Regions from separate parts of the Homo sapiens genome. Here region 2 is linked to region 1. The links come from fine-mapping of genetic effects on gene expression. Tissue or cell type: whole blood. Region 1 holds a variant in brackets; the other region holds the start of a gene. All regions are shown on one strand. Distances are from middle to middle.

Region 1 (16,271 bases):
TTCTTTTTTATAACGGGCCTTGTCCACCTTTGCCATGTCTTCAAATTTTCCTTTCTCTTTAGCAGATACAGTTTTCTACCTCTCTGAGCACTCTTAGAAAATGCTGGCTGGGCGTGGTGGCTCACGCCTATAATCCTAGCACTTTGGGAGGCTGAGTCGGGTGGATCACCTGAGGTCAGGAGTTCGAGACCAGCCTGGCCAACATGGCAAAAACCCTGTCTCTACTAAAAATACAAAAATTAGCCAGGCATGGTGGCGCACACCTGTAATCCCAGCTACTCAGGAGGCTGAGGCAGGAGAATCACTTGAACCCGGGAGGCAGAGGTTGCAGTGAGCCAAGATCGCGCCACTGCACTTCAGCCTGCGCGATGGGAGCAAGACTCCATCTAAAAAAAAAAAAAAAAAAACTCTGAGAAGCTGACTGAAGCCTCTGGGTGCTTATGTTCCTCCCGACAAGTTTTGCACGAAAAATGCATATGATGACATTTTGCCTCTAGGTTTCTGAGGATCTCCTTTGCTCATGTCTAGTTATTTTTCCTCAGTGAGGCACAGAGTCACCCTGTGCCTGTCAGGCTCTCACTTGCCCTGGTGCTGTCTCTATGGAGCTTAACATACTGTAACAGCTGTCTACTTCTTTTTTTTTTTTTTTTTTTTGAGACAGAGCCTTGCTCTGTAGCCCAGTCTGGAGTGCAGTGGCATGATCGCCTCCCGGGTTTAAGCGATTATCCTGCCTCAGCCTCCAGAGTAGCTGGGATTACAGGTGTCCACCACCACGCCTGGCTATTTTTTTTGTATTTTTAGTAGAGACGAAGTTTCACCATGTTGGCCACGCTGGTTTAGAACTCCTGACCTCAAGTAATCTGCCTGCCTCGGCCTCCCAAAGTGCTAGGATTACAGGCGTGAGCCACTGTGCCCTGCCTTACTTGCTTTTTATCATTTTGTTTTGCTTTTTTTTTGTTGAGGCAGGGTCTTGCTCTGTTGCTCAGGCTGGAGTGCAGTGGTGCATTCATGGCTCACTGTGGCCTAAACCCCCTAGATTCAATCAATTCTCTCATCTCAGCCTCCTGGGTAGCTGGGACTACAGGCATGCGTCATCATGTTTGGCTATTTTTTGTTTGTTTGTTTAATTTTTTGTAGAGATGGGTACCCCTATGTCGCCCAGGCTGGTCTCCAACTCCTGAGCTCAAATGATCCTCTCATCTCGGCCTCCCAAAATGCTGGGATTACAACCATGAGCCACTCCACCTGGCCCTGTCTACTTGCTTTTTTTTTTTTTTTTTTTTTTTTGAGACGGAGCTCGTCTTGTTGCCCAGGCTGGAATGCAAATGGCGCGATCTTGGCTCACTGCAACCTCCACCTCCCAGGTTCAAGCCATTCTCCTGCCTCAGCCTCCCGAGTAGTTGAGATTACAGGCATGTACCATCACGTCCGGCTAATTTTGTATTTTTCGTAGACACGGGGTTTCTCCATGTTGGTCAGGCTGGTCTTGAGCTCCCAACCTCAAGTGATCCACCCGCCTCGACCTCCCAAAGTGCTGGGATTACAGGCGTGAGCCACTGTGCCCGGCCCTGTCTCCTTGTTAAATGGGAAAAATTAATCCCCTATTTGGTTAAGCTTGTTATTTGCAGTTAATCTGTTACTTTCAGTTGCATTCAATTTTAACAAATAGATATCCTTGATAACAGTGTTTCTGAAATTGGTATTTGTAGGCCTCTGTACATTCAAATATAATTTTAAAAATTGAATCCTTGTAAATTGAAGAATTCAACTGTTTTCTTTTAGTGATAATCTAAAAAAATTTAACATAAACATATTCTAAATCATCTGTATGAAAAATAAGCCCGGTAGTGGTGACTCAGCCTGTAATCCCAGTACTTTGAGAGGCCGAGATGGGTGAATCCCTTGAGACCAGGAGTTCGAAACCAGACTGGACAACATGGCGTAACCCTGTCTCTATTAAAAATACAAAAATCAGTCAGGCATGGTGGCACATACCTGTAATTCCAGCTACTTGGGAGGCTGAGGCACAAGAATCACTTGAACCCAGGAGGTGGAGGTTGCAGTGAGCCGAAACCATGCTGCTGCACTCCAGTCTGGGCAGCAGAGCAAGACTCTGTCTCAAAAAAAATAAAATAAATAAAAGAAAAATGAGTGCTGTCTTGTGATTTGGGTTCCCATTATTTTATTTTATTATTTTTTGAGACAGGGTCTCACTCTGCTCACTCTGTCACCCAGGCTGGAGTACAGTGGTGCCATCTCGGCTCACTGCAGCCTCGAGCTCTGGGACTCAAGCAATCCTCCCACCTCAGCCTCTGGACTAGTTAGGACCACAGGCACACACCACCACACTGGGCTAATTTTTTATTTTTTGTGGAGATGGTGAAGGGGTGGGTTGCCCCTCCACACCTGTGGGTGTTTCTTGTTAGGTGGAACGAGAGACTTGGAAAAGAAAAAGACACAGAGACAAAGTATAGAGAAAGAAATAAGGGGACCCAGGGGACCAGCGTTCAGCATATGGAGGATCCCGCCAGCCTCTGAGTTCCCTTAGTATTTATTGATCATTTGTGGGTGTTTCTCGGAGAGGGGGATGTGTCAGGGTCACAAGACAATTGTGGGGAGAGGGTCAGCAGACAAACACGTGAACAAAGGTCTTTGCATCATAGACAAGGTAAAGAATCAAGTGCTGTGCTTTTAGATATGCATACACATAAACATCTCAATGCTTTACAAAGCAGCATTGCTGCCCGCATGTCCCACCTCCAGCCTTAAGGAGGTTTTTCCCTATCTCAGTAGATGGAACGTACAATCGGGTTTTATACCGAGACATTCCATCGCCCAGGGACGGGCAGGAGACAGATGCCTTCCTCTTGTCTCAACTGCAAGAGGCATGCCTTCCTCTTATACTAATCCTCCTCAGCACAGACCCTTTACGGGTGTCGGGCTGGGGGACGGTCAGGTCTTTCCCTTCCCACGAGGCCATATTTCAGACTATCACATGGGGAGAAACCTTGGACAATACCTGGCTTTCCTAGGCAGAGGTCCCTGCAGCCTTCCGCAGTGTTTGTGTCCCTGGGTACTTGAGATTAGGGAGTGGTGATGACTCTTAAGGAGCATGCTGCCTTCAAGCATCTGTTTAACAAAGCACATCTTGCACAGCCCTTAATCCATTTAACCCTGAGTTTGACACAGCACATGTTCCAGAGAGCACGGGGTTAGGGGTAAGGTCATAGATTAACAGAATCTCAAGGCAGAAGAATTTTTCTTAGTACAGAACAAAATGGAGTCTCCTATGTCTACTTCTTTCTACACAGACACAGTAACAATCTGATCTCTCTTGCTTTTCCCCCACAGATGGAGTTTCGCCATGTTGTCCAGGTTGATCTCAAATTCCTGGGCTCAAGTGATCTGCCCACCTCGGTCTCCCAAAGTGCTGGCTTTACAGGCATGCACCACCATGCCCGGCGTCCATTATTTTATTTTGCATTTGTTGTTACAATTATCTGAGAGCATTTAGTTTCATGGTTTATAGGTTTAATTTTAATGGTTTATAAGTTTATAGCAGGCTGCTATCAGGTTAGCAAGTCCTACTGTTAAAATGATTGCTGTCCTGGGACATGGGCTTTATACTTACATTGAATTGCCTTACCTTTTACATTTAGTTGGCTGTGAAGAAGAGACAATGGCTGTTGATGAGTCAGGTAACTGTCTCCCACAGCAAATTAGTGCAGTGATGTAACTACTGCTTTTTTTTTTTTTTGAGACGGAGTCTTGTTCTGTTGCCCAGGCTGGAGTGTAGTGGTGCGATCTTGGCTCATTGCAACCTCTGCTCCTGGGTTCAAGCAATTCTCCTGCCTCAGCCTCCCAAGTAGCTGGGATTACAGGGGCACACTGCCACACCCGGTTAATTTTTTTTTTTTTTTTTGTATTTTAGCAGAGACGGGGTTTCACCATGTTGCCCAGGCTGGTCTTGAACTCCTGAGCTCAGACAATCTACCTGCCTCGGCCTCCCAAAGTGCTGAGATTACAGGCATGAGCCACCACACCCGGCATTTTTTTTTTTTTTTTTGAGATGGAGTCTCGCTCTTGTCATCCAGGCTGGAGTGCAGTGGTGCCATCTTGGCTCACTGCAACCTCCGCCTCCCGGGTTCAATCACTTGTCCTGCCTCAGCCTCCCAAGTAGCTGGGACTACAGGTGCCCACCACCATGCCCAGCTGATTTTTGTGTTTTTAGTGGAGACGGGGTTTCACCATGTTGGCCAGGCTGATATCGAACTCCTGACCTCAGATGATCCTCCTGCCTTGGCCTCCCAAAATGTTGGGATTACAGGCGTGAGCCACCGCTCCCGGCCTGTTTAACATTATTTTAAACCTCAAACCTGCTTTTCTTCCAGTGTTTCCTATGTCACAGGTTAATGACATCACTCATGTCACCAAGAAACTGGATTTAATTTACTCTTTCCTTTCATCCTAAATCCAATTAATCCTAAAGCCTGAAGAAATATACCTTGTATTTCCTTCTTTCTACCCTGCTGCTAATGTCATATTACAGTTCTGAGACTTCTCTTGTCTGGATCATTGCCGTGGCCTCCCAATTGCTCTCTTTGCCTAATCTCCTAGTCACTAAATTCATTCATCACACAGCTTCCAGAGTCAACTTCCTGAAACGTAGTTCAAATAATTTAATTCTACATCTCAAAAGTCTTCAACACATTGTAACATTTATTAAGTACTTCTATGCCAGTTACTGTGCTAGACTTGTTACTACAAATATAAATAAAACAAGGGGAATAATTCCCATGCTAATGGTGAGCAAATGAAGAGAGCACAATGGAATATATCTAAAAATAGAACTAGAGGTATACATCAGACCCTGCAAGAAAGCCTCCTCCCCATGGTTCTGAAATCTTTACTGTCCTTTGGAGAGACTCTACAAATCACTTAGACTTGTTCAACAGATTTCTTCTTTTTTCAGTACTCTGTCCAGTTATTTCACTTTTATGATCTTAAGGGGATAGACTGTTAACATTTCTCTAGGCTAGGATAACTCTTTTTTTTTCCTGTTTTTTTTTCTTTGTTTGTTTAGAGACTGGTTCTTGCAGCACTGCCTAGGCTGGGCTCAAACTCCAGGGCTCAAGTGATCCTCTCACCTCAGCCTACCAAGTAGCTGGGACTATAGTCACATGCCAAATGTGCTCCACTCTCTTTTAGTTCTTTTTTCTTTTCTTTTTTTCTTTTTTCTTTTTTTTTTTTTTTGAGACAGAGTCTTGCTCTGTTGCCCAGGTTGGAGTGCAGTGGCGGGATCTCAGCTCACTAAAACCTCTGCCTCCCGGGTTCAAGTGATTCTCCTGCTGCAGCCTCCTGAGTAGCTGGGATTGCAAGTGCCTGCCACCACGCCCAGCTAATTTTTGTATTTTTAGTAGAAACAGGTTTTCACCATGTTGGTCAGGCTGGTCTGGAACTACTGACCTCATGATCTGCCCACCTTGGCCTCCCAAAGTGCTGGGATTACAGGCTTGAGCCACCATGCCCGGCTTTTGTTCTTTTTTTTTAGACGGAGTCTCACTCTGTCACTCAGGCTGGAGTGCAGTGGCGCGATCTCGGCTCACTGCAACCTCCGCCTCCTGGGTTCAAGAGATTCTCCTGCCTCAGCCCCCTGAGTAGCTGGGACTACAGGTGCACACCACGAAACCCAGCTAATTTTTGTATTTTTAGTAGAGATGGGATTTCTCCATGTTGGCCAGGCTGGTCTCAAACTCCTGACCTTGTGATCTGCCCGCCTTAGCCTCCCAAAGTGCTGGGATTACAGGCATGAGCCACCGTGCCTGGCCTTGTTCTTGAATTAGAAAAATAAACTCAAGTGCCCAGCCCAATGCCTGGCATATGGTGAATACAATAGGTGGCAATTTTCTTTGGGCTGAAGTATGACTGTATGTACTGTGTATTGGTTTAGCCTGCCCATAGCCAATAACCATCCATTATTAAGCTCTGAACTTTCATGCTGCCCTTGCTCCTGCAAGAAAGAAAGGGGAGTCTCTCTGAGCCTACGCTGGCTGCTGGCTCGGGTGGCTGCCTGATAAAAAAGAATAAAAGTTACATAAAAATTAAAAAAAGGAATAATGCCAACTAACTATTCAGCCTCAGGCAAAGAAGGAAAAAGCAAATAAATCACGTCTATGCAAAGTAGTATGATAAATAACAAAAATTGAGATGCTCAATGAGCATGAGACAGCACTTCCTCATTCATTATCCCACTATAAGGGCCAAGGGAGTTAGTGAGGGAGCTGGGGACAGAGACAGAAACATGATACTATTGATTGAATGCTCACTGACTGAGCTCCTATTTTATATCAGATGCTTTGTTGTGACTTTGGGGACACAGAGACAGATGTCACCCACATCCTACTCTCCAGAAAGTCACTCTAGCAGGCAGAGGAAGAAATGTAAAACTAAAATTGCTTAAAAGATTTTTTTGGCTATACAAGCTATTGTTTGGACACAAAGGAGGGGAATTGTAAATCCTGGGAATGAGTAAAGGTAAGAAACAGCCGGAGAGAAAGTAATGCTGAAAGACATGTTTTCTCCAGGGAAAGAGTTTTCCAGGTTCAAACAAAAGTCTGAAGGCGGCCGGGCTCAGTGGCTCACTCCTGTAATCCCAGCACTTTGGGAGGCTGAGGCAGGTAGATCAACTGAGGTCAGGAGTTTGAGACCAGCCTGGCTGACATACTGAAACCCCGTCTCTACTAAAAATACAAAAAATTAGCCGGGCGTGGTGGTGGGCGCCTGTAATCCCAGCTACTTGGGAGGCTGAGGCAGGAGAATTGCTTGAACGCTGGAGGTGGAGGGTGCAGTGAGCAGAAGTCGTGCCATTGCACTCCTGCCTGGGCAAGAAAAGCGAAATTCCATCTTAAAAAAAAAAGTCTGAAGGCTTGAAACAACTACACTGTGTTCTGGGTGTTATAAGTGTGAAGGATGGAAGAGTTATACTAATAGCAGCTAACATTTCTAATTTATAATAAGAACTAAGTACTGTACTGAACTACATAGATAATCACAATAAAGTATTAATATTATTCCCATTTTACAGTTGAGAAAAGTAAGGTTTAATGAGTTTAAGACTTGCCCAAGTTCACACCTAAAATTACAGTGAGGAGTTTTTGTGTTTGTGTGTGTGTGTTTTTTTTTGAGACAGAGTTTCGCTCTTGTTGCCCAGGCTGGAGTGCAATGGCGCTATCTCAGCTCACTGCAACCTCTGCCTCCCTGATTCAAGCGATTCACCTGCCTCAGCCTCCAGAGTAGCTGGGATTACAGACATGCGCCACCACACGTGGCTAATTTTGTATTTTTAGTAGAGATGGGGTTTCTCCACGTTAGGCTGGTCTCGAACTCCTGACCTCAGGTGATCTGCCCTCCTCAGCCTCCCAAAGTGCTGGGATTACAGACATGAACCACCGCGCCCGGCCCTGACAGTGAGGAGTTTTAACTCAGTAAATTGACTACAGAGCCTCAGCTTTTATTTTATTTTTTATTTTTCTTTTCTTTTTAAATTTTACTTTCTTTCTTTCTTTAGCCCCAGCTTTTAAACCACGAATAACAGTGACATGATCAGACTTCAGAAAGATTTCCTTCAGCTGCAGTGGAAGGGATGGATAAGAGATAGTGTTAATTGAAATGAGTGACTAAACTGACTAAACCATGTCACAGACACTTTTGTGGCTGTTTCTTCCCCAGCTTTTAAACCACGAATAACAGTGACATGATCAGACTTCAGAAAGATTTCCTTCAGCTGCAGTGGAAGGGATGGATAAGAGATAGTGTTAATTGAAATGAGTGACTAAACTGACTAAACCATGTCACAGACACTTTTGTGGCTGTTTCTTCCCAAGAGGTTCTCAGGAGGTTTTTAGTATTTATACATTTTCCTTGAAAAGTGGGGGTGGGAAAGATTGAGGCAAAGACTTTAGCTAATGCTCAGGAAATCTACGTTTTGTTTTTTGAGACGGAGTCTTGCTCTGTTGCCAGGCTGGAGTGCAGTGGTGCTCTCGGCTCACTGCAACCTCTGCCTCCGGGTTCAAGCGATTCCCCTGCCTCAGCCTCCCAAGTAGCTAGGACTACAGGCGCGCCACCACACTCGGCTAAGTTTTTGTATTTTAGCAGAGACAGGGTTTCACCATGTTGGCCAGGATGGTCTCGATCTCCTGACCTTATGATCCGCCCTCCTAGGTGGCCTAAATCTACATTTTTACATAAGATAAGGTGAATGTTTGAAGAAAAAGGGAATGGAGGAAGAAAACAATTATGTGGTGGACTCAGGGTAATCTAGTAGTAAGGTACTACTAGAAAGGTAGAAAGTAGTCTAGTAGAAAGGTAATCTAGTAGTGAACATTTATGGAATTTGTGGAATAGAGGCCAGGTGCGGTGGCTCGCGCTTACATTCCTAGCACTTTGGGAGGCCAAGGCGGGCGGATCACCTGAGGTCAGGCGTTGGAGACCAGCCTAGCCAACATGATGAAACCTCGTCTCTACTAAAAATACAAAAAATTAGCTGGGCGTGGTGGTGCGTGCTTGTAGTCCCAGACACTCCGGAGGTGAGGCGGGAGAATCGCTTGAGCCCGGGAGGTGGAGGTTGCAGTAAGCCAACACCGTGCCACTGCACTACAGCCTGGGCGACAGGGTGAGTGAGACTCCGTCTCAAAAAAATGTGGAATAGAACAAACTTTAGTTTTAGGAACTAGACTTTATATTGTAGATCTAGTTGCAATTGACACGTCCTTGTTTTATGGGAGGCTACATACTTTAAAGGTTTCCAGGGGAGCAAATAATTAATTATGATTTTGTGTATGTGTGTTTGTGGGGGGTAGTCATCAGGAAATGTCTGAGGCCTTTTGCCTTACCGTGTGGGTCTGGCTAATGTGTAATGTTTTGACTCAAGATTGTAAAGTCAAATTATTCATCCGGGGAGAGGATGGTCGTGTAACTGAATCAGCCTCCCAAGATGAACTTTCCCTCTGGCGTAAGTTTAGGAGTCCTGATATTTTATTTTCCTTTACAACAGAAAGCAGCAACCCTGTAATTAAAGAGAACAATGAAGGAAGCTATCTAAGCCATGAGGGTTACTGAGGATCTGCGCTGGGGTTAAGGCTGCGAACTTAAGAAATATTTGGATAGACAGTTCTCATGGCTTGGTGTGGTTAGACGTGGTCCTCCGTGGGCAGCAGCTAAGACGCTTACTCCAGTTTGGGCATTGAGGGCACAGTGCGTAGTGGTCCTGGAAGTAAAGAGAATCCTGGTTTTCCGCAGAGATCTAGGATTAACCTAAGCGTTCGGGTTCGGGAGCGGCCACAAGGGCGCCTCACTCCAACCTCAGCCATCCGCAACAGGGTGGGGTATTAGTATTTTTCCGCACCCGCCCCAACGAGGGAAAGCGCCGAGTCATTCCGGCGGGGCGCGCCGGGCGGGGCTCGGGCCACATCCCCCTCCTCTCTCTCCTCCTCCGGCACCCCCGTCCGTTCCGACTCTCGCGAGATCCCTACTGGCTATAAAGGCAGCGCCCCGGAGAGCTCTTGCGCGTCTTGTTCTTGCCTGGTGTCGGTGGTTAGTTTCTGCGACTTGTGTTGGGACTGGTGAGTGTGGGCAGTGCGGCCCCTGCGGAGTGAGGCGCGGCGCGCCCTTCTTGCCTGTTGCCTCTTCCTCCTCCTGTCCGGGGCCCGCCCGCGCTCGGGTGGGGGTGCTGTGATGCGTGAGGCAGCCGGGGGAGGCCCGGAGTCCGAGACTGCTTGAGCGCTGCGCACACCCCTCTCGTGGGCCCCCCACGTAGGTGCGGGAACCTGGTTGAACCCCAAGGCAAGCGTGGACTCGAGTCGAGTCTTCCCCCGGCAACTCGAGCACGTGGCGCGGCGTCTGGGCGGGCTGGTGGTGGGGGTCTCCGAGACTAGCCTCCTGCCGGACGGGGTGGGTTCGGGAAGCTTCTGGAATGGACCTGTATCCAGACTCGTGGCTGTAGAAGACAGCCTCTATGTATTTGGCTGTTCCGGGTCCTGAGCCTTGACTAGCTGCGGAGCTTCGGGTACCCTTTCCCCGTCTTTATTTTCCTGTACGTGGAATGGAGTTAGCGATGAGCCCAAATGTCCCCGCTGAAGCACTCTCTCTGCTGGTGCTTTCTCCAGTGCTGGGGAGGGACAGGGGGCACCTGAAGTGGGGTTTAGGGATGTGGCCCTCTACGCTGGGCAGATCCCCTGAAGGGGCCCGGTGGCGGCCTGAATCCCAGCAGCCTTTACCCCGAATTGGTTGGGTTTTGTACTTGGGGGCCACTTGGGAAAGAAGGATTGGACGAGAAGGCCATTTGGGGGCACCAAGTTGCAGCATGCCTTAGTTTTTGGTTTTTGTTTTTTGTCGTTAAAGGTGTTAAGGACTTTTTAAAAAACAGTTAAAAGTTTGCTAAGATCCATGCTTACAAAATTTCTTTTGCTTGTGGTATTGTGAACTAAGAACTTTGGGACTTGGAAAAGCTTTCAGACCGCGGCTTAGTGGGTTAAATCTCTGTTTTTTGAGCTAGAGTCTCGCTCTGTCGGCCAGGCTGGAGTGCAGTGGCGCGGTCTCGGCTTACTGCAACCCCTGTCTCCCGAATTCAAGCAATTCTTCTGCCTCAGCCTTAGGAGTAGCTGGGATTACAGGCTTGTGCCACCAAGCCCCGGCTAATTTTTGTATTTTTTTTTTTTTTTTTTTTTTGAGACGGAGTCTCGCTCTGTCGCCCAGGCTGGAGTGCAGTGGCTGGATCTCGGCTCACTGCAGCCTCCGCCTCCCGGGTTCACGCCATTCTCCTGCCTCAGCCTCCCGAGTAGCTGGGACTGCAGGCGCGTGCCACCACCCCCGGCTAATTTTTTGTATTTTTGTTAGAGACGGGGTTTCACTATGATGGCCAGGCTGGTCTCGAACTTCTGACCTCAGGTGATCTGCCTGCCTCGGCCTCCCAAAGTGCTGGGATTACAGGCTTGAGCCACAGCGCTTGGCCAAGATCTCAATACTAATCTTGGTGTTGATCTGGGTGAATCCAGTGCAACCTTCCTTTTCAGCAGTAAATTGATTCTTATACTTGTTTTCGCCCTGGGATATTAGCCCCAAAGTCAGGAACCCACCTTCACAAATGGTGAAGGGAATTCTAGGGCTTACACAATACCTAAAGATTTGAAATTAAGCAGATGCCAATCAATATCTTGGTCTTGCCTCTTTTTTTTTTTTTTTTTTTTGGAGACAGAGTCTCACTCTGTTGCCCAGGCTGGAGTGCAGTGGCGCGATCTCAGCTTACTGCAACCTCTGCCTCCCGGGTTCAAGTGATTCTCCTGCTTCAGCCTCCTGAGTAGTTGCGATTACAGGCATGCACCACCACGCCCGACTAATTTTTGTGTTTCTAGTAGAGACGGGGTTTCACCATGTTGGCCAGACTGGTCTCGAACTCCTGACCCGGTGATCCGCCCGCCTGAGCCTCTCAAAGTGCTGGGATTACAGGTGTGAGACACTGCGCCCAGTGGTCTTGCCTCTTAAAAGTTGGACTGACTGGAAGGGCGCGGTGGCTCACGCCTGTAATCCCAGCATTTTGGGAGACTGAGTTGGGCAATCATCTGAGGTGAGGAGTTTGAGACTAGCCTGACCAACATGGAGAAATCCCGTCTCTAATAGAAGTACAAAAAAATTAGCCGGGTGTGGTGGCCTGCGCCTGTAATCCCAGCTACTATGGAGGCTGAGGCAGGAGAATCCCTTGAACCTGAGAGGTGGAGGTTGCAGTGAGCCGAGATAATGCCATTGCATTCCAGCCTGGGCCCCAAGAGCGAAACTCCGTCAAAAAAACAAAACAAAACAAAAACAAATAAAACAAGTTGAATTAGTTATAGGTTGTGTGCTGTCTTGGACAAAGCTACCTGGAGAAAAGTCAAATATGCTTCTGATGTTATGAAGGCAGGTGGAGGCACAGTGATGGGAAAGGTCAACGTGACTTTTGGGGAGCCAAACAAAAGTGTTTGTGGCATTGTGCATTTGGATTCTGGTTTGAGAGTCTTCATCTGCCTCTCTCTCTGCTTCTGTATAATGAATAAGATGCCACTGCACTAATTATGGTTCAGAAAGAATGAGAGGTTATCTCAGTATATAAAGAAATTGCCTTGCTGTTTTTAAATGAAAACAAAGGCTGAGATTCAGAGACTTGTTTCGTTCCAAAAGTTGGAAAGCTCAGACTGTGACCCTTGACTGCTGGCTGGAGCTTCTTACTAAAACAACATTTAATGTATTCAGGGACACTGGACAATGCCTTGATTGTTTACAGCTAAGTCTCTTTAAGTAGGTGAAGGCTGCTGGTTATGTAGAAAATTAAGGCTTGTTTCTAATTCATTTCTGTTATTTCTAGCTGATAGGAAGATGTCTTCAGGAAATGCTAAAATTGGGCACCCTGCCCCCAACTTCAAAGCCACAGCTGTTATGCCAGATGGTCAGTTTAAAGATATCAGCCTGTCTGACTACAAAGGTGAGAGAATTAACACTGGGCTCATTGAGATGGAGTTATTTTATATTCTAGGGGTGGCTTGTTAGATTTGTGTCAATGTTGTTTGACTGTAAAATGTTTTGTCTCCTAGGAAGAAGTATTTAGGTTGTTACCTTCATGTTGAAGTGGTGATTATCAAGTGATTACAGGGTATATATCCTAGGACCAAACCACTTCTGGAGAAACCACATGCTTCATTATGTCTGGACATACTAGCTCAATTATCTTTTCAGTATTCCTCGTCTATTTTCTTTCTTTATTTTTATTTTTGAGACAGGGTCTCATTCTGTCACCCAGGCTGGAGTGCAGTGGCGCAGTCATGGCTCACTGCAGCCTCTACCTCTCTGGGCTCAGGTGGTCCTCCTACCTCAGCCTCCCAAGTAGCTGGGACTGTAGGGGCATGCTGCCATGCCTGGCTAATTTTTGTACTTTTTTTTTTTTTTTTTTTTTTT[G/TG]AGATGGAGTTTTGCTCTTGTTGCCCAGGCTAGAGTGCAATGGCGTGATCTCGGCTCACCACAACCTCCACTGCCCAGGTTCAAGCAATTCTCCTGCCTCAGCCTCCCGAGTAGCTGGGATTACAGGCATGCGCCATCATGCCTGGCTAATTTTTTTTTGTATTTTTAGTAGAGACGGGGTTTCTCCATGGTGGTCAGGCTGGTCTCGAACTCCTGACCTCAGATGATCCGCCCACCTCGGCGTCCCAAAATGCTGGGATTACAGGCATGAGCCACCACGCCTGGCTTAATTTTTGTACTTTTTGTAGAGCTGGGCGCCATGTTGCCCAGGCTGGTCTCCAACTCCTGGGCTCAAGCCCTCTGCCTGCCCTAGCCTTTCAAAGTGCTGGGATAACAGGTGTGAGCCACTGCCTCTGGCCCTCCTCTATTTTATTATTGGAGAAATACTCATTATCTCTTGTTATAAGAGACATTCTACATTTAAAGTCTCAGAGCTCACTCAAATCTCTGGAGCTGTGACACTGCTCGTTCAGTTTGTTTGGGTCACGTATATATCACAGCTGTTAATATTAGGCTGAGGGCTAGGCACTTTCCCTTGCCTGTTTTGACCCCGGAGGAGAGTTGATATTACAGATGGAACAACTCTCCTTTCTGTTGTCATAGTTTTTTTTTTTTTTTTTTTTTTTGAGACGGAGTCTCGCTTTGTCGCCCAGGCTAGAGTGCAGTGGTGCGATCTCAGCTCACTGCAAGCTCCGCCTTCTGGGTTCATGCCATTCTCAGGCCTCAGCCTCTTGAGTAGCTGGGACTACAGGCGCCCGCAACCATGCTTGGCTAATTTTTTTGTATTTTTAGTAGAGACGGGGTTTCACCATGTTTGCCAGGATGGTCTCGATCTCCTGACCTTGTGATCCGCCTGCCTTGGCCTCCCAAAGTTCTGGGATTACAGGCGTGAGCCACTGCGCCCGGCCTCTGTTGTCATAGTTTCATGCAGACACTTGGCAAGTTCTGTTGAGGCTCCTCCTTTCTTTACCTTGTAGTTCCAGAGCAGCTCGATCTCCTGGGACAGTTGAGGATATAGATTCCTTAGAATGCTAACCTGAAACTCAGGTGTCAAGTGTCCTTTTCTCAGTGGTGTAGCATTAGTCCCTGGAGTTAGTTTTTGGTAGAACATTTGACTAGGTTTCCTGACATAATCACACTTTGTTCTTGGGGCTTCTCCCAGCAAACAAGGTAAGTTGCACCATAGGGAGGTGACCTGGGCCCAGGGGTATAAGCAGGAGGTCTAGGAGGAGCTGTTCTCTGCCCTCCAGAGCTTGACCTGCTGAGGCCCCAAAGTGCTTGTTAGGCAAAGCTGGAAGGGTTGTTTAGATGAGTTAGTTTCCAGTGATACTGCAAAGTGGTAAATGTCAAAAAGGGCTGCTTGTTTGGCTTTTTTTTTTTTTTTTTGAGGTGGAATTTTGATCTTGTCGCACAGGCTGTAGTGCAGTGGCATGATCTCAGGTCACTGCGACCTCCATCTCCCCGGTTCAAGTGATTCTCCTGGCTCAGCCTCCCCAGTAGCTGAGATTTCAGGCCCCCGCTGTCACACCCAGCTAATTTTTGTATTTTTAGTAGAGACATGTTTTACCATGTTGGTCAGCCTGGTCTTGAACTCCTGACCTCAGGTGATCCACCCGCCTCGGCCTCCCAAACTGCCTCCCAAACTGCTGGGATTACAGACGTCAGCCACCATGCCACCACACCCAGCCTGTTTGACTTTTCAAACATTGCTGCTACCTGGAAATGAGTGAATATTTGGAATTGTTCTAGTATTTAAGCCTGGTGGGTGTGGCGAGAAGGCTGCCTGGCCAGTTTGAAGATCTGTTATTTCAGTGGTTAATCCCAGTGACTTCATTAAAATTGCAGCTAGAAGTTCTGTTACTCACTAGTACTTTTGTCTTTTCTGTCTCTCTCTGTCTCCCTCTTTCTCTCTCTCTCTCTGTGTATATGTATATATATATTTCTGTTGTTTTGAGACAGTCTTGCTGTGTTGCCCAGGCTGGCCTCAAACTCCTGGGGTCAAGGGATCCTCCCACCTCAGCCTCCCAAGTAGCTGGGACTACAGACACGCACCACTGTGCCTGGCTTAAAATTTTTCCTGTCCTGTCAGGCACGTTAGGAACACATGTGATCACTTAAACCATGCTTGTTCCATTACTATGGTTCATCACGGGAGAAGTGCAAAGGCTGTGACTTCTTATTGGTGTCTTATCTCTACAGCAGAGGAGTACTGCAATTCAGCTTTCTCTGGGTATTGTTAAGCATTGGCATTAGGCCATGCTTATAAGTGCATCCTTGCTTTTGCTATCTTTGGAGAACTTGGTGTTTATGTTAATTTTAGCCACTCAGAAAAGATCAAAATTAGACTGAACAGTGTTTACTCTGTATTGGTAGCTATGACATGGAGGCAGGAGAATAAAGTATGGGATTGGAAGTTTTTTTCATTCAGGTATTCCTAATGCACCAGGTTCTAAAAGTAGCTTCTAGGAGACATCTGTATTGAGCATCTTGGCAGTTAGTGGTTATTGTGTCAGCCATCAACTTGCTTCTTTTTGTATAGGAAAATATAAAGCAAGGAAGTCTGTGTCAAATGCTAACCATGACTCCGATTTTCCCCCCAGGAAAATATGTTGTGTTCTTCTTTTACCCTCTTGACTTCACCTTTGTGTGCCCCACGGAGATCATTGCTTTCAGTGATAGGGCAGAAGAATTTAAGAAACTCAACTGCCAAGTGATTGGTGCTTCTGTGGATTCTCACTTCTGTCATCTAGCATGGTAAATCTCTTGGTCTATTTGGCATGTGAACTTTTTTTTTTTTTTTTTTTTTTTTGAGATGGAGTCTTGCTTTGTCGCCCAGGCTGGAGTGCAGTGGTGTGATCTCCGCTCACTTCAAGCTCTGCCTCCCAGTTTCACGCCATTCTCCTGCCTCAGCCTCCTGAGTAGCTGGGACTACAGGCGCCTGCCACCATACCTGGCTAATTTTTTGTATTTTCAGTAGAGACGGTGTTTCACCGTGTTAGTCAGGATGTTCTTGATCTCCTGACCTCGTGATCTGCCCACCTCAGCCTCCCAAAGTGCTGGGATTACAGGTGTGAGCCACTGCACCTGGCTGGCATGTGAACTTTTAAAACAGCAACTGGGAAGCTTTGGCAATAGACTTTCAAGTATTGCCTTCTCATTGAAGGGAGTGCAAAGTCTGACTTTCTCTTATTGCTCTCATGACCTGGCAGCAGAGAAGAAGCAGCTTCAAT
Region 2 (16,271 bases), 28 kb before region 1:
CAAGAGAAAAATGTATTTAAATATTTAAACTGCCTTCCTTCAGTTTATGGTCTTGTAATGGGAACAGGTGATATCAGTACACTGTGATAAGAGCTTTGATCAAATTCTGCACAAGAGCTGCACAAGGGTGGCAAGAAAAGGGTAACCTTGCTAGGATGGCTTCTTGGAGGAATCTCTTCCTGAGTCAAGTCCTAAAGAATAACTGAACAGGAGCTATTCAAGTGAAAGAAAAGGAGAGAGAATGTTCACACCAAGAGCCAATGAGGTAGATACAACCTTTTCCCTTGATCTCATCAGTACCATGAATATCACTCTTGGGATTGATTTAATTGCCAACAATATCTTTATAAATATAATCTTAGTTTCCAGGTTCTAAAAGGATGTAGGATAGAGCAAGTAATAAGACAAGCTGTGGCCAGGAGTGGTGGCTCACACCTGTAATCCTAGCACTCTGGAAGGCCGATGCGACGGATCACCTGAGGTCAGGGTATTACCAGCCTGGCCAACATGGCGAAACCCCATCTTTACTGAAAATACAAAAATTAGGCCGGGTTTGGTGGCTTACACCTGTAATCCCAGCACTTTGGGAGGCCGAGGAGGGCAGATCACGAGGTCAGGAGTTCGAGACCAGCCTGACCAACATGGTGAAACCCCGTCTCTCCTAAAAATACAAAAATTAGCCGGGCATGGTGGCACATGCCTGTGGTCCCAGATACTCAGAAGGCTGAGACAGGAGGAATCGCTTGAACTCGGGAGGTGGAGGTTGCAGTGAGCCGAGATTGAGCCACTGCACTCCGGCTTGGGTGACAGAGCAAGACTCCATCTCAAAAAAAAAAAAAAAAAAAAATTAGCTGGGCGTGGTGGCACATGCCTGTAATCTCAGCTACTTGGGAGGCCAAGACATGAGAATCACCTGAACCCGGGAGGCGGAGGTTGCAGTGAGCTGATATAGTGCCACTGCACTCCAGTCTGGGTAACAGAGCGAGACCCTGTCTCAAAAAATAATAATAATAATAAGACAAGTTGAGGCTGGGTACAGTGGCTAACGTCTGTAACCCCAGCACTTTGGGAGGCCGAGGCAGGCAGATCACTTAAGACTTGAGGTCAGGAGTTCGAGACCAGCCTGGCCAACAAGGCGAAACCCCCTCTCTACTAAAAATACAAAAATTAGCTGGACATGGTGGTGCACACCTTAATCCCAGCTACTCGGGTGGCTGAGGCAGGAGAATCGCTTGAACCCAGGAGGCAGAGGTTGCAGTGAGCTGAGATCATGCCACTGCACTCCAGCCTGGGATACAGAGTGAGGCTCCATCTCAAAAAAAAAAAAAAAGACAAGTTGTGAGTAAAGCCAGTACACCAACACTGTCTTTCCTAATACTTCTGACCCAGGAAGAATTTTATAGTCTAGTTTAAGTTGGTTTTGGAAACCACTCTTTTCTGCTAAAACAAAATCAAAACTTCAATCTGAGTGTCAAACCACAAGCTACCAGGGCAATGCTCTTTATAATCAAATTTCCAAGGGATCAAGCAAGCAAGTCTGGACTTGACAAGAGGAACCTGGTGGCCTGCTGCCACCAGGGTCTAAGGCAGGTTTCCTGGGCTTAATGCCCAATGACCTGTTGGCCTCTCGCAGATTACCCAGCACGCATGAGAAGGCTCTGAAATTACACCTGGGGTGAGAGCTTGAACAACACCCTGGCTTAAGGGGAAAAGGAAGAAGAAACCTGAATCTTGCTTCTCCCTTTCTTTTGCTGGTGAAACTGAACACCGAAAAGGCTGAGGCTTGGGGAACAGGGATGAAAGATGGAGGAGATCTGCAAAGAACAAGAGCTCCCTAGGGAAGAATGAAGGTGCCACATAGATGTTTTTCTCTAGGACAGAAAATCATCCTCGGCCAGCTCTTGACTTCCTCATCTTCTGCTTGATACAACTGCTTTCCAGCCTAGCTGTGCGTGAACAGATTCCAGACTCTGAGCTTGTCAGGAACTGCCTATCTGGACCTTTGGCAGCATTCAGAAACCCTCATGTTATCTTTTTTATTTTTATTTTTTTGAGATAGAGTTTCATTCTTGTCACCCAGGCTGGGGTGCAATGGCGCGATCTTGGCTCACTGCAACCTCCACCTCCTGGGTTCAAGCGATTCTCCTGCCTCAGCCTCCCCAGTAGCTGGGATTACAGGCATGTGCCACCACGCCCAGCTAATTTTTGTATTATTAGTAGAGACAGGGTTTCACCATGTTGGCCAGGCTGGTCTTGAACTCCTGACCTCAGGTGATCCACCAGTCTCAGCTTTTCAAAGTGCTGGGATTACAGGCATGAGTCACTGTGCCCAGCCTATCTTTTACTTTATTTATTTATTTTGTTTGAGATGGAGTTTCACTCTTCTTGCCCAGGCTGGAGGGCAATGACGCAATCTTGGCTCACCACAACCTCCACCTCCCAGGTTCAAGCGATTCTCCTGCCTCAGCCTCCCGAGTAGCTGGGACTACAGGCGCCCGCCACCACGCTCGGCTAATTTTTGTATTTTTAGTACAGACGGGGTTTCACTGTATTGGCCAGGCTGGTCTCGAACTCCTGACCTTGTGATCCACCCACCTCGGCCTCCCAAAGTGCTGGGATTACAGGCGTGAGCCACTGCGCCCGGCTATCCTTTTTTTCTTTTAAGACGGAGTCTTGCTCCGTCACCCAGGCTGGAGTACAGTGGCACGATCTTGGCTCACTGCAACCTCCACTTCCCAGGTTCAAGTGATTCTCTTGCCTCAGACTCCAGAGTAGCTGGGATTACAGGCGCCCACCACCACACCTGGCTAATTTTTTGTATTTTTAGTAGAGACGGGGTTTCACCATGTTGGGTAGGCTTGTCTCAAACTCCTGACCTCAAGCAATCCACCCACCTCGGCCCAATGTGCTGGGATTACAGGCGCGAGCCGCCGCGCCCGGCGGAAACCTTCATGTTATATTCAAGTGTAAAAGAGAGATGTGTGGGTTGAGTGGGGAGGAGGGTATTATCAGGAATCAGGTTTTATTATTTCCAATTCAATGCCTAGGTTCCTTCCCTCTGTTGAATTCTTTCTTTCTCAAAGGGCTCTACAGTTGCTGCCTGGCTGCAGGGAAGTAGAAGACACAGGAAAAAAAGGAAACAATATCTACATGAGTGTTTCCTAGCTGCATGGGCCTCTCCTCTGGCTCCCACATATGCTGGTGTGGGAGGCAAAGGAAAGGTCCCTTCAGGGTTTTCTCCTCAATCTTCTCATTCCCTAGTTGAGTTCATGTCTTCGGTTATCGCCTTAGGCCTTGATTCTTCTCACCCCACTTCTGTATATTCAACGCCCTCTGGACCTCTCCACTAGTATGTATAGGCATCTGAGATTCGCCATGTCCAAAACTGTACTCATCAAATCCAGCAGTAGAGTACAGAGGAAACAGTTTAGGCTGTGGGGCTACGCAGACCTGGGTTTGAATCTCAGTTCTGATATTTTCAAGAGATACTATATCTAAAGCACCTTGCACAGGGCCTAACCCATGCTCTTCTTTCTGTATAGTCATCCCGTGGTATCCACAGGAGATTGGTTCCAGGACCCCTTCAGATACCAAAATCCTGGGATGCTCCAGTCCCTTATATAAAATGGCATAGTATTTGCATAAACCTAAGTACATCTTCCTGTATATTTTAATCAACTCTAAATACTTATAATTCCTAATACAATATAAATGCTAAATGCTAGGTAAATAGGTGTTATAATTTTTTTTTTTTTTAGACACAGTTTCACTCTTGTTGCCCAGGCTGGAATGCAACGGCGCAATGTCGGCTCACCGCAACCTCCGCCTCCTGGGTTCAAGTGATTCTCCTGCCTCAGACTCCCGAGTAGCTGGGATTACAGGCATGCGCCACCACGCCTGGCTAATTTTGTATTTTTAGTAGAGACAGGGTTTCTCCATGTTGGTCAGGCTGGTCTCGAACTCCCGACCTCAGGTGATCCACCCACCTTGGCCTCCCAAAATGCTGGGATTACAGGCGTGAGCTACCACGCCCGGCCTATACTGTATTTTTTTATTTGAATTTTTAAAGTTGGTTTTTGTTCCCAAGTATTTTTGATTCTAGGTTGAATCCGCAGATGCACAACTTGTGGATAGAGTGTTGACTTTGTACTCTATCTCACCAAAAGACCAAAGCCCTGGATAACAAGTGTTAAAGCAAACCAGACAACATGTTGATAGTATAATCCATTTGGGCCTTAAAAAAAAACATCTGGTTGCGTGTGGTGGCTCATGCCTGTTAATCCCAGCACTTTGGGAGGCTGAGGCAAGCAGATTGCTTGAGTCCAGGAGTTCGAGACCAGCCTGGGGGACATGGCAAAACTTAATCTCTACAAAAAATATGAAAATTAGCCAGGCATAGTGATGTGTCTCTATGGTCCTAGCTACTCAGGGGGCTGAGGCAGGAGGATCCCTTGAGCCTGGGGGGCAGAGGTTGCAATGAGCTGAAATCACACCACTGCACTCCAGCTTGGGCCACAGACTGAAACCCTGTCTAAAAAATAAATAAATAAAAGCCATCTAAAGAAAGTATTTGTAGTTCCTTGCAGGCATTTATGAGTATTATCAGATTATGGTTTTGATAAGTAGTTGGTGAGGAGAGTATTTTCTCCTGTACTTTTCTTTTTGAGACAGGGTCTCACTCTGTTGCCCAGGCTGGAGTGCAGTGGCCCATTCATGGCTCATTGCAGCTTCGAACTCCTGGACTGGAGCAATCCCGAGTAGCTGGGACTACAGGCACATGTCACCACACCCAGCTTATTTATTTACTTATTTATTGAGACAGAGTCTCGCTCTAACGTCCAGGCTGGAGGGCAGTGGTGTGATCTCAGCTCACTGCAAACTCCACCTCCCAAGCTCAAGCTATCCTTTCCATTCAGCCTCCCAGGTAGCTGGGACTAGAAGCATGGGCCACGATGTCCAGCTCATTTTTTGTGTTTTTCGTAGAGACAGGGTTTCTCCTTGTTGCCCAGGCTGGTCTGAAACTCCTGGGCTCAAGTGGTCCTTCTGCCTCAGCCTCCCAAAGTGCTGGGATTATAAGTGTGAGCCACTATGCCTGGCCTTATTTTTCTTTTGTAGAGATAGGGTCTCACTGTGTTGCCCCCTCAAACTTCTAGCCTCAAGTGACCCTCCCACCTTGGCCTCCTAAAGTGCTGGGATTACAGGTGTGAGCCACCACACCTGGCTTTCTCCTATACTTCTTTTTTTTTTTGAGACGGAGTCTCGCTCTGTCACCCAGGCTGGAGGGCAGTGGCGTGATCTCGGCTCACTGCAAGCTCCGCCTCCCGGGTTCATGCCATTCTCCTGCCTCAGCCTCCCGAGTAGCTGGGACTACAGGTGCCCGCTACCATGCCCAGCTAATTTTTTTGTATTTTTTAGTAGAGACAGGGTTTCACCATGTTAACCAGGATGGTCTCGATCTCCTGACCTCGTGATCCGCCCACCTCAGCCTCCCAAAGTGCTGGGATTACAGGCATGAGCCACCACACCCGGCCTCTCCTATACTTCTAGAAAAGCCAGCTTGGAAAATCACCTTACATATGTAATGTTGGCCAGATTTTGTCAGTTTAGCTGGGTTTTAAATCTTGTTAATACTTAATAGCTACAGAAAAAGAGAATGCTCTAATATGTAACCTAAGACCTAAGATTGCAATAATGCTTCCTGTACTTCTTGATGTATGTGAAAAGAATTTTAAAATATATATTCCTAAATCTTTCTCTAGTCCATCCATATCTACCTCCACTGCCACTGCCCCATCTCTGACCACCACCACTCTTTTTTTTTTGAGACAGAGTCTCGCTCTGTCGCCAGGCTGGAGTACAGTGGTGTGATCTCGGCTCACTACAACCTTCGCCTTCCAGGTTCAACCGATTCTCCTGCCTCAGCCTCCCCAGTAGTTGGGACTACAGGCGCATGCCACCACACCCAGCTAATTTTTGTATTTTTAGTAGAGACGGGGTTTCACCATGTTGGCCAGGATGGTCTCCATCTCTTGACCTCGTGATCTGCCCGCCTCAGCCTCCCGAAGTGCTGGTATTATAGGCATAAGCCACTGTGCCCAGCCTTTTTAAATTTTTTTTTGAGACAGAGTCTCACTCTGTTGCCCAGGCTGGAATGCAGTGGCATGATCTCGGCTCACTGCAATCTCTGCTTCCCGGGTTCAAGTGATTCTCCTGCCTCAGCCTCCCCAGTAGCTGGGATTATAGGTGTGTGCCACCACACCCAGCTACTTTTTGTATTTTTAGTACGGAGAGGGTTTCACCATGTTGGCCAGGCTGGTCTCGAACTCCTGACCTCAGGTGATCCACCCACCTTGGCCTCCCAAAGTGCTGGGATTACAGGCATGAGCCACTGTGCCCAGCTGACCATCACTCTTTACTTAAACCACAGATCTTGGCTTCCAGAGTGGTCCCTCTTCCCGCAGTCCATCACCAGATCCAACCATGTGACTCCCAGTCTCAAACCCTTCCAGCAATTCTCCCCTATATTCAGGATAAAGTCCAGGCTTCTCAAAACCTGGCTTCTATCTTTCTCATTTCACCACCTCCTCATGTCAGACTGTATTCCAGACTTTGAACACTCAACAGGGTCACATCACTTACCTGACTCTAGGTGTGTGCACTTTCCTTCCCCAAACCCTACCTTTGCCTGGCTAGCTGCTGCTCATCCTTCAGCTAGCACTTCACATTTCTGGCTCCTTTCCAGGTGCAGTGGCTCATACATGTAATCTCAGCACCTGGGCAGGCTGAGGCGGGAGGATCACTTGAAACCTGGGCAACAAAAGGAAACACTGTCTCTACAAAAATTTGTTTTTTTCTTTCTGAGTCTGCTTGCTAGGGGGAATTTTTTTTTTTTTATTTTAAAGATTAACTGGGCACAGTGGCATGTAGTTTATAGTCCAAAGGCTGAGGTGGCAGGATTATTTGAGCCCAGAAGTTTGAGGCTGCACTGAGCAAGGATTCCACCACTACACTCCAGCATGGGCAAAAGACCGAGAGACCCCCATCCATCTCTAAAAAGAAAATAAATAAATAAATAAATGGATGGCTACTTCCATGTACTGATAGCATGTGCACATCACTACATTTTTCTGTTTATATATAAATTTCCCCCACAAACCTGGCTACTCCTTGAGGTCTGAGCCTGTCATCTGCCTGAACCCCTCACTCCTAGAGTACCTGTCCCATACATACATACATACATACATACATACATACATACATACAATGTACACAATACACACACCACACACACACAGCTTATGGGGGAGAGATCTTGACAGGTTGAGTTTGGCCAGCTGGAAGGACATTTGAGGAAGTCGCTGCCTCTGTCACCTTCTTCCTTTACCTGTTGGAAAACCTGAAAAGAATCCTCTTGGAGAATATCAAAGCACTTTACTATACTCGGCAAAAAATCCCAGTGGACCAGATAGAATCATACTGAGATTGCTCCTGTATTAAAGATAAGGAAACAGATCTTGGAAAAGTAACAGGCCTGCAGCCCTGAGTATGAACGATCTGAAGGGGAAGAGTTAATTAACAGTAGCCTCATCCAGTGAAGGTTCAGATCTGTGTCTTACTTTAACAGAGTTCTGGGGCAACAGAATAACATGTCAGACTTTCTCAGACCCAAAGCAGGTGTCTAAGTAAGAGAATTATCCCCACTTCTCCCCACTTCTGAGAACTATCCCTGCACCTGCATAAGAAAGCCGGAGCAGCTGGAAAAAGCACATAGGTGAGCAAACAAAAAGATGGCAATTAAAACTTGCAGATCACCTAGTATGCGCTGTGCGCCTTCAAAGCTTTATCTCAATTCTTGCTACAGTTCTAATGTAGGACCTCATTTTATTGCTGAGGAAACAGGTTCAGAGAAACTGGGAAGTTAGCAAGAGATCATACAGAGAAAAAGAAGAGCTCAAATCCGAAACCAAGTCTCGTCCCCTCCAGTGCTCTGCGCTCTCCACTCAACCCCAGGGGCTTACATTTCAGTAGTAAAGAATCGAGGCCATCTCCTCCGGGAGAAAGATAGGCCAGCAGCAAGAGAAACTCACCTTGGCACAAGCACAGAGCGTGAATAGGGTACTGTGGCCTGGGCTCAGTTCTGCACCCCGCCAGAGATCCAACGATCCTCAGCTTAAGTCTGGCGGTGAGGGGGAAGTTCCACCCGGAGGGAGGGGCAGGGGCCGGGCATAAAGGATCACGCGCAGGGTGGACCGCCTTCGCCGCCTCCCGAGGAAGGACCTGAAGGGGATGGAAAACAGAGCTGGGAGGTAGTACCGTCTCCACCTCTGGATCCTCGAGGTCGAACTGGCCGGAACTTGGTCACTCACTCCGCAGCGCGGGTTTGGAGAACTCCTGGGCACAATGAGGCAGGTGGCGCTGGCCACGTGGGCGGTGCAAGGGGCGGGGCCAGCCTCGCCTTTTGCTGGCCCACATTGCACCGCGCGCCTAGGCGCCGCCGCAGGCGCTTTTCCGGGGGAAGTAAGGTAGCAGATGCCACGTTGCAGGTTCTTCTGGTGTCGGCCCTCCGGATTCACAATGCCATCCGTGGCTCCATACTCTCCCTAAAGTCAGGTTGGCTGGATTCCCAAAGTTCACCTAAGTTGGCCCCGTTACATTTAGTTCAAGCAAACTGAGGCCCAGAGAGCAGCTGCAACACCAAGATTGGCCAGAATACAGAAGACCTCGCGTCTGCAGATCCAGGCGCTGGAAAGTGCCTGGTCCCCCTGTCTGGACCATAGACCCCGCCCAGCACGTTATGTGCCAGGCACTGTGCTTAACACTTAATAAACATGGTTTTATTGAATCTTCATAATAATCCTGGAAAAGGAATATTCCTTTTTTTTTTTTTTTTTTGAGACGGAATCTCGCTCTCGCCCAGGCTGGAGTGCAGTGGCGCGATCTTGGCTCACTGCAACCTCCGCCTCCCTGGTTCAAGCAATTCTCTGCCTCAGCCTCCCGAGTAGCTGGGATTACAGGCGCCCGATACCACGCCTGGCTAATTTTTTTGTATTTTTTAGTAGAGACGGGGTTTCGCCATCTTGGCCAGGCTGGTCTTGAACTCCTGACCTCGTGATCCACCCGCCCTGGACTCCCAAAGTGCTGGGATTACAGGAGTGAGCCACTGCGCCTGGCCGAAAAGGAATATTCTTTTATTTCGTACAAGCCTTTTTAAAAATCGTAGTATAGCATATATACAGAAAATACACCAGTCTTTTTTTTTTTCTTTTTCTTTTTTTCCTATTCTACATCCAGGAAGAAAGAAAATGTATAAATCTTAAATGTATACAGTTCTTTTTTTTAAATTATTTTTTGCAATGTAACTGCCATCCAGAGGAAGATATTACCAGCACACCATAAGCCTGTGAGGAAAGTATTCATAATCCATTTTACAGATTGGACAGACTCAGCAAGGTTAAGGCTATTTATAATTTTCCCAAAGTCACACAGGTATTAATTAAATGACACATCTGCGATTTGAAATAGTCTGTGCTGTTTGAGTGGAGAGGTGTCTTGCATGTATGTGTTTTCCTTGGCAGGGATGGGCAAGACACAGGGTTATCTCGGTTTGGCTCTGCTTTTCCCCACACCTTTACTCCCTGAGAGCAACTCTTCCCATTTCCCCACCCCCGTTATCCCCCACTGTCTCCCCAACATAAGTGATGTCCTGGTGGACCAAATGTCTAATGTATCAGGCCATCCTCATAAAAACAATCAGACTTGGCCGGGTGCGGTGGCTCACGCCTGTAATTCCAGCACTCTGGGAGGCCGAGGCAGGCGGATCACCTGAGGTCAGGAGTTAGAGACCAGCCTGACCAACATGGAGAATCCCCGTCTCTATTAAAAATACAAAATTAGCCGGGCGTGGTGGCACATGCCTGTAATCCCAGCTACTCGGGAGGCTGAGGCAGGAGAATTGCTTGAACCTGGGAGGCGGAGGTTGTGGTGAGCTGAGATTGCGCCATTGCGCTCCAGCCTGGGCAACAAGAGTGAAACTCCATCTCAAAAAAAAAAAAAAAAAAAATTCAGCTAGGCGTCGTGGCGCGCACCTGTAGTCCCAGATACTCAGGACGCTGAGGCAGGAGAATCGCTTGAACCCGGGAGGCGGAGGTTTCAGTGAGCCGAGATCGAGCCACTGCACTCTAGCCTCTTGACAAAGCGAGACTGCCCCTCAAAAAAAAAAAAAAAAAAAAAAAAAAAAAAAAATTAGCTGGATGTATTGATGCGAGCCTGTAATCCCAGCTACTTGGGAGCCTGAGGCAACAGAATCACTTGAACCAGGGAGGCGGAGGTTGCAGTGAGCTGAGATCGCGCCACTGCACTCCAGCCTGTATTCAAAAAAAAATAAAATAGGCCAGGCATGGTGGCTCACGCCTGTAATCCCAGCACTTTGGGAGGCCGAGGTAGGCAGATCACCTGAGGTGAGGAGTTCGAGACCAGCCTGACCAACATGGAGAACCCCCATCTCTACTAAAAATACAAAATTAGCCAGGTGAGGTGGCACATCCCTGTAATCCCAGCTACTCAGGAGGCTGAGGCAGAAGAATCACTTGAACCCAGGAGGCAGAGGTTGCGTTTGGCAAGATTGTGCCATTGCACTCTAGCCTGGGCAGCAAGAGCAAAACTCTGTCTCAAAAAAAAAGGGGCCGGGCGCAGTAGCTCACGCCTGTAATCCCAGCACAAGGCGGGCAGATCACGAGGTCAAGAGTTCGAGACCAGCCTGGCCAATATGGTGAAACCCCGTCTTTACTAAAAATACAAAAATTAGCTGGGCATGGTGGCACGCGCCTGCAGTCCCAGCTACTCAGGAGGTTGAGGGAGGAGAATCGCCTGAACCCAGGAGGCAGAGGTTGCAGTGAGCCGCACCACTACACTCCAGCCTGGGTGACAGAGCAAGTCTCCGTCTCAAAAAAAAAAAAATACGTAAAAGAAGAACCTACAGGCCAGGCACAGTAGCTCATGGCTGTAATCCCGGCACTGTGGAAGACTAAGAAGGGAGGATCACTTGAGCCTAGTAGTTCAAGACCAGCCTGGGCAATATAGTGAAACCTCATCTCTACAAAAAATATAAAAATTAGCTGGGCACGGTGGTGCACACCTATAGTCCCAGGTGTTTAGGAGACTGAAGTGGGAGGATTGCTGGAGCCCAGGTCTTCGAGGCTGTAGTGTGTCATGATTGTGCCATTCTACTCCAGCCTAGACAACAGAGCAAAACCTTGTCTCTTTTTTTTTTTCCCCTCAAATTCTTTTTACCAAGGACCCTGTCTAAAAACAAACAGGCCAGGTGTGGTGGCTCACACCCGTAATCCCAGGACTTTGGGAGACCGAGGCGGGCCAATCACCTGAGGTCAGGAGTTCGAGGCCAGCCTGGCCAACATGGTGAAATCCCATCAATACTAAAAATACAAAAATTAGCTGGGCATGGTGGCAGGTGCCTGTAATCCCAGCTACTTGAGAGGCTGAGGCAGGAGAATTGCTTGAACCTGGGAGGCAGAGGTTGCAGTGAGCCGAGATGGTGCCACTGCACTCCAGTCTGGGCGACAGAGCAAGACTCCATCTCAAAAATAAATAATAATTTTTAAAAAACAAAAAAACAGAAGTGAGCAAATAAGAATATAAGAACAACCACTTTATTGAGCATCCACTACTTACCATAGTCTTTATATTCATGTTGTCTGATATCCACAGCAGAAACTTTTGGATTTGGTGGACATGAAGATCATTGGTGACCAATGTGGAGAGCTCCTTCAGTGGAATGGTTAATCCTGAGCCAGATGACCTGAATTCAGGAATGAACAGGAGATGAAGACATGGAGAATCAGAGGAAGGACTTCTCAAGGATACAGTAAAGGCCAGGGACAGTGGCTCATGCCTGTAATCCCAGCACTTTGGGAGGCCAAGGCAGGCAGATCACTTGAACCCAGGGGTTCTCAAGATCAGCCTGGGCAACATGGTGAAATCCCATCTCTACAAAAAATACAAAAATTAGCTGGGTATGGTAGCATGCACCTGTGTTCTCAGCTACTTGGGAAGCTGAGGTGGGAGGATCACCTGAGCCTGGGAGGCCAAGGCTGCAGTGAGCTGTGATCGCACCCACCACTACAAAGCCTAGGCAACTGAGTGAGACCCTGTCTCAAAAAAAAAAAAAAAAGTAAGAGGAAGAAAAGTTATGGGTTAATAGTGACTTGATGCAGATGGAGGGAGAGTTTTTCACTATGTGGGAAATGCGAGCATGACCACGTGCTAAGCAGCGGGGAAGGGTCCAGTGGAAGAGACAGGAGATATGAAAGTGGAGAAAATGATGGAGGGAAGCTGGGCGCGGTGGCTCAAGCTTGTAATCCCAGCACTTTGGGAGGCCAAGACGGGTGGATCACTTGAGATTAGGAGTTTAAGATCTGCCTGGCCAACATGGTGAAACCCCATCTCTAGTAAAAATACAAAAAATTAACTGGGCATGGTGGTGCACGCCTGTAATCTCAGCTACTTTGGAGGCTGAGGCATGAGAATCCCTTGAACTTGGATGGTGAAGGTTGCAGTGGGTCAAGATCATGCCACTGCACTCCAGCCTGGGTGACAGAGCGAGACTCTTGTCTCAAAAAAAAAAGAAAAAGAAAAAGAAAAAAAATAATGGGATAATTGTGGGGGGGATCATGGATCATACATTTAGCTAACATTTACTTAGCATATACTATGTCCTAGTCCTTTCACTGGGCACAAAAATGGACCAGCCTTGGCCGGGCACGGTGGCTCACACCTGCAATCCCAGCACTTTGGGAGCCAAGGTGGGAAGATCACTTGAGGTTAGGAGTTTGAGACGAGACTGGCCAACATGGTGGAACCCCATCTCTACTAAAAATAGAAAAATTAGGCACTCATTCTCTTTCCTGCCACCCTGTGAAGAGGTGCCTTCCACCTTGATTGTAAGTTTGCTGAGGCTTCCCCAGCCATGTGGAACTGAGTGACTCCATCTGCAGCTTTTATTAGAAATCAAGGGAAGCCACCAGAAGACGGAGCACTGAATGAGCTCTGCGGAGCTGAATCATCTAACCTGACCTCCAATTTAGAAGAAAGCCCCTCTGTGCGCACCTGCTAACCTGCCTGTCATCACCCTCACAGCTGTGCTGGGTCAGTGTCACAGACTCACCCATTCCAGAGTTACCATCTGATATGTGTAGGCTCATATGAAAAGTATGCTGTAATGTGAGGAAATAAATCCGACGGAAAAACAAAAATCAAAACAAACAAACAAAAAATACAAAAATTAGCCGGGTGTGATGGCAGGCACCTGTAATCCCAGCTACTCAGGAGAAGTGCTTGAACCCAGGAGGTGCAGGTTGCAATGAGCCAAGATTGTTCACTGCACTCCAGTCTGAGTGACAGAGTGAGATTTCATCACAAAAATTTAAAAAAAAAAAAAGGACCAGCCTTGTTCTCTGCCTTCAAGGTTCACAGTCCAGAGGGGCTAATGTAGAACAGGCAGAATGCATACCTATGTGTGTGTGCAGGGTTGGCCTTGTGTGGCGACAGAGGAGGCTGAAACAGATGAAGAGCTAGAAAGTGAGAATGGCTGTCTAGGAAGGAGAAGGGAGCATCCCTTTCTGGACAACTAGGCAGGAGGGAGGGAAAGGTTAAGTTCTCAGCACCCCTCACTGAACGTTTTAGCATTTGGCAGGGGTTTCTAGACCCTAAGAGGAATGTGGCCAGGTAGAAGAGATGAAGAAATAAATGCCTGCTGTCCAAGTCTCTGAGTTTGTCCCGGAGCTACCCCAGTGACTTATTTGCTGGCACTTCCTGCTTACTGTAGGCTAGGCTGTCTGAATGAGAATGAAGAACAGAGTTCAGGTTCCCAGAGGACCCATATACGAAGCAGGGCGATAAGGGGGCCTGAACAAGATCTTGACTTTATGCGTGGACCTTCTAGTGACATTGTAATGAGCGCACATTTAAGGAACATATTTAAGTTCCTTCTAATCCCCTATTAGGGCCGAATCATTCCTAAACTCTGGCCAGCTCTGAAACCAACTTCACAAGACCTGACTCATTTCCCCCAAGTAGTGAAAGTCCCTACACAGGTAGCTACTGGAAATGGCCCTGGGCCTGTGCACTGAGGCATTATTCTCCCTCTCAGGCCCCTCAAATCCTGTGGTCCCATTCAAGTGGCTGCTGAGAGCCAGCAAGGCTGGCACCAGGCCCTGGGGACTGCATTATGCAGTCAGCTACCTCATCTTTTGGGATCTGAGCTCCAATCCCCAATCCCACCAGAGTGACTTGGTCCTCAGAACCATTTATTGCTTTTTTCCTGATTATGCACCAAAGCAAAATTCTTAATTTCTTAAATATATGTTATTTATTTTTTGAGACAGAGTCTTACTCTATCATCTAGGCTAGAGTGCAGTGGCATGATCACGGCTCACTGCAGTGTTGACTTCCCAGGCTCAAACAATCCTCCCACCTCAGCCTCCCAAGTAGCTGGGACTACAACTGTCCACCACCGTGCTCAGCTAATTTTGTTTATTTTTTGTAGAGACGAGGTCTTACTATATTTGCCCAGGTGATCTCAAACTCCTGGGCTCAAGCGATCCTCCCACCTTGGCCTCCCAAAAGTGCTGCAGTTATAGGCATGAGCCACCAAGCTGGCCATGCTTACTTTTTTGAGTTGTTTGGGGATTAAATGAAACAATGGATGTAAAGTGCCTGGTGGTACATAGAGATTTAATGAGTGGTAATGATTATTATTTATATTCAAAATAGGCTGCTGCAAGCTAGGTTGAAATAGGAAAACTGTTCCCTCTTCTCCTACCCCTTCAAGTGAAACTACTACAAACTGCCACCCATCCCTGACAGAGACAGAACTCCAGAATAGAGGAGGAGGACTCTGCACAGGGTTGCAGTCTCTTTCTCTCTCATGCATGCGCACATATACACTCATGCACCCATGCAAGCACACTTACACCTGTACATGCACACACATGATTATGTAGAGCTACAGCTGTTGGCATAGAAGCTATAGTTATATCAGGGTAGGAATCAGTTCTATTATGGCAGTTACAAAGATCAATGCTGCAGTGAAGTGGTGGAAAGGAGGCTGCAGCCAACTGAAACCAATGGACTGGGACTGGAAAGTCGGGGGTGGGGGGAAGAGGAGGAAGTGGTGTGGGCTAGGGCAGGCAGGCAAGGGAATAACCGCTGACGGAAGCAGACAGCCTGTCATATGGCGGTGCGGATTTCCCCTGTCAACTGCATTTCCTAATTTTACGGTCTTCTGTTGCACATGTCACCCACAGAGGCTGCTCTGTGCTAAAAGTGGGTAGAAGTGATTGATTTATTCATTCGACTGACCAATATTTAATGATATCTACCATGTGCCAGGAGTTTTTTGGAAAAATAGACTGTTGTTGGGAAGGGAGTTAAAGGAAGCTGGAGAATGGTAGTCTGAGCAGAGGAATTGATATGTGCCAAGTTGTGGAGGAATGAAGCAGGATGTTACATTCCAGGAACTACATGTGGTTTGATAAGAAGGGAGCATAGGCTGGGTGGGAGGATCACATGAGGCCAGGGCAGCATACTGAGACCCTGTCTCTACAAAAATAGAGGTGTTGTGCACCTGTAGTCCTAGCTACAATGGAGGCTGAGGTGGGAGGATCACTGAAGCCCAGGAGTTTGAGGTTACAGTTAGCTATGATTGTGCCACTGCACTCCAGCCTGGATGACAAAGCAAGACCCTGTCTCTAAAAAAAAAAAAAAAAAAAAAAAAAAAGTATTACAAATTTAAATATATATACTTCAAAATACAAGTAGGAGAAAGAAAAAGAAAACATATATATAAGGCAATTTGATAATATATATGAAAATGTTAAATGTCCATCCCTTCTGATTCAGCAATTGTAAGGAACTTAGTTTTAGGAAATAATAGAAAAGGGACAAGGCTGTTTACTGTGTTGTTTAGATTACCCAAATCAGCTGAGCGTGGTGGCTCACGCCTGTAATCCCAGCACTTTGGGAGGCCAAGATTGGAGGATTGCTTGGGGCCAGCAGTTTGAGACCAGCCCGGGCAACATAGCGAGACCCTGTCTCTATTTTTAAAATATATTTTTAATATAAAAAAATTAAAACATATTACGTAAATATTTGTAGGAAGGGAATATCCAAAATAAATTGTTGTGCATCCATGTGATAAATACAGACACAACAAGGATAAAGTAAATATGTAAGTATTGTTGTGGAAAAAATGTCTT

The links. PIP is the estimated chance that this variant, and not a neighbour inherited with it, causes the effect.
Region 2: AKR1A1 starts here. The variant in region 1 is fine-mapped to the expression of AKR1A1 in whole blood (INTERVAL, PIP above 0.99).

What each region holds. Positions count from the first base shown.
Region 1 is chr1:45,515,178-45,531,448 of GRCh38, reverse strand. PRDX1 (peroxiredoxin 1) reads left to right here and starts at 9,565. Exons shown (of 6, transcript NM_181697.3): 1 at 9,565-9,620; 2 at 12,395-12,511; 3 at 15,642-15,795. The coding sequence starts at 12,406. It also overlaps the pseudogene HMGB1P48. RefSeq lists enhancers at 3,887-4,395, 9,087-9,166 and a silencer at 10,209-10,371. The variant G/TG (reference allele first, on the strand shown) is at 12,982.
Region 2 is chr1:45,542,972-45,559,242 of GRCh38, reverse strand. AKR1A1 (aldo-keto reductase family 1 member A1) reads right to left here and starts at 8,417. Exons shown (of 9, transcript NM_153326.3): 1 at 8,088-8,417. RefSeq lists enhancers at 1,700-2,445, 2,446-3,192, 7,945-8,164, 8,395-8,624, 8,675-8,734 and 3 more and a silencer at 14,227-14,276.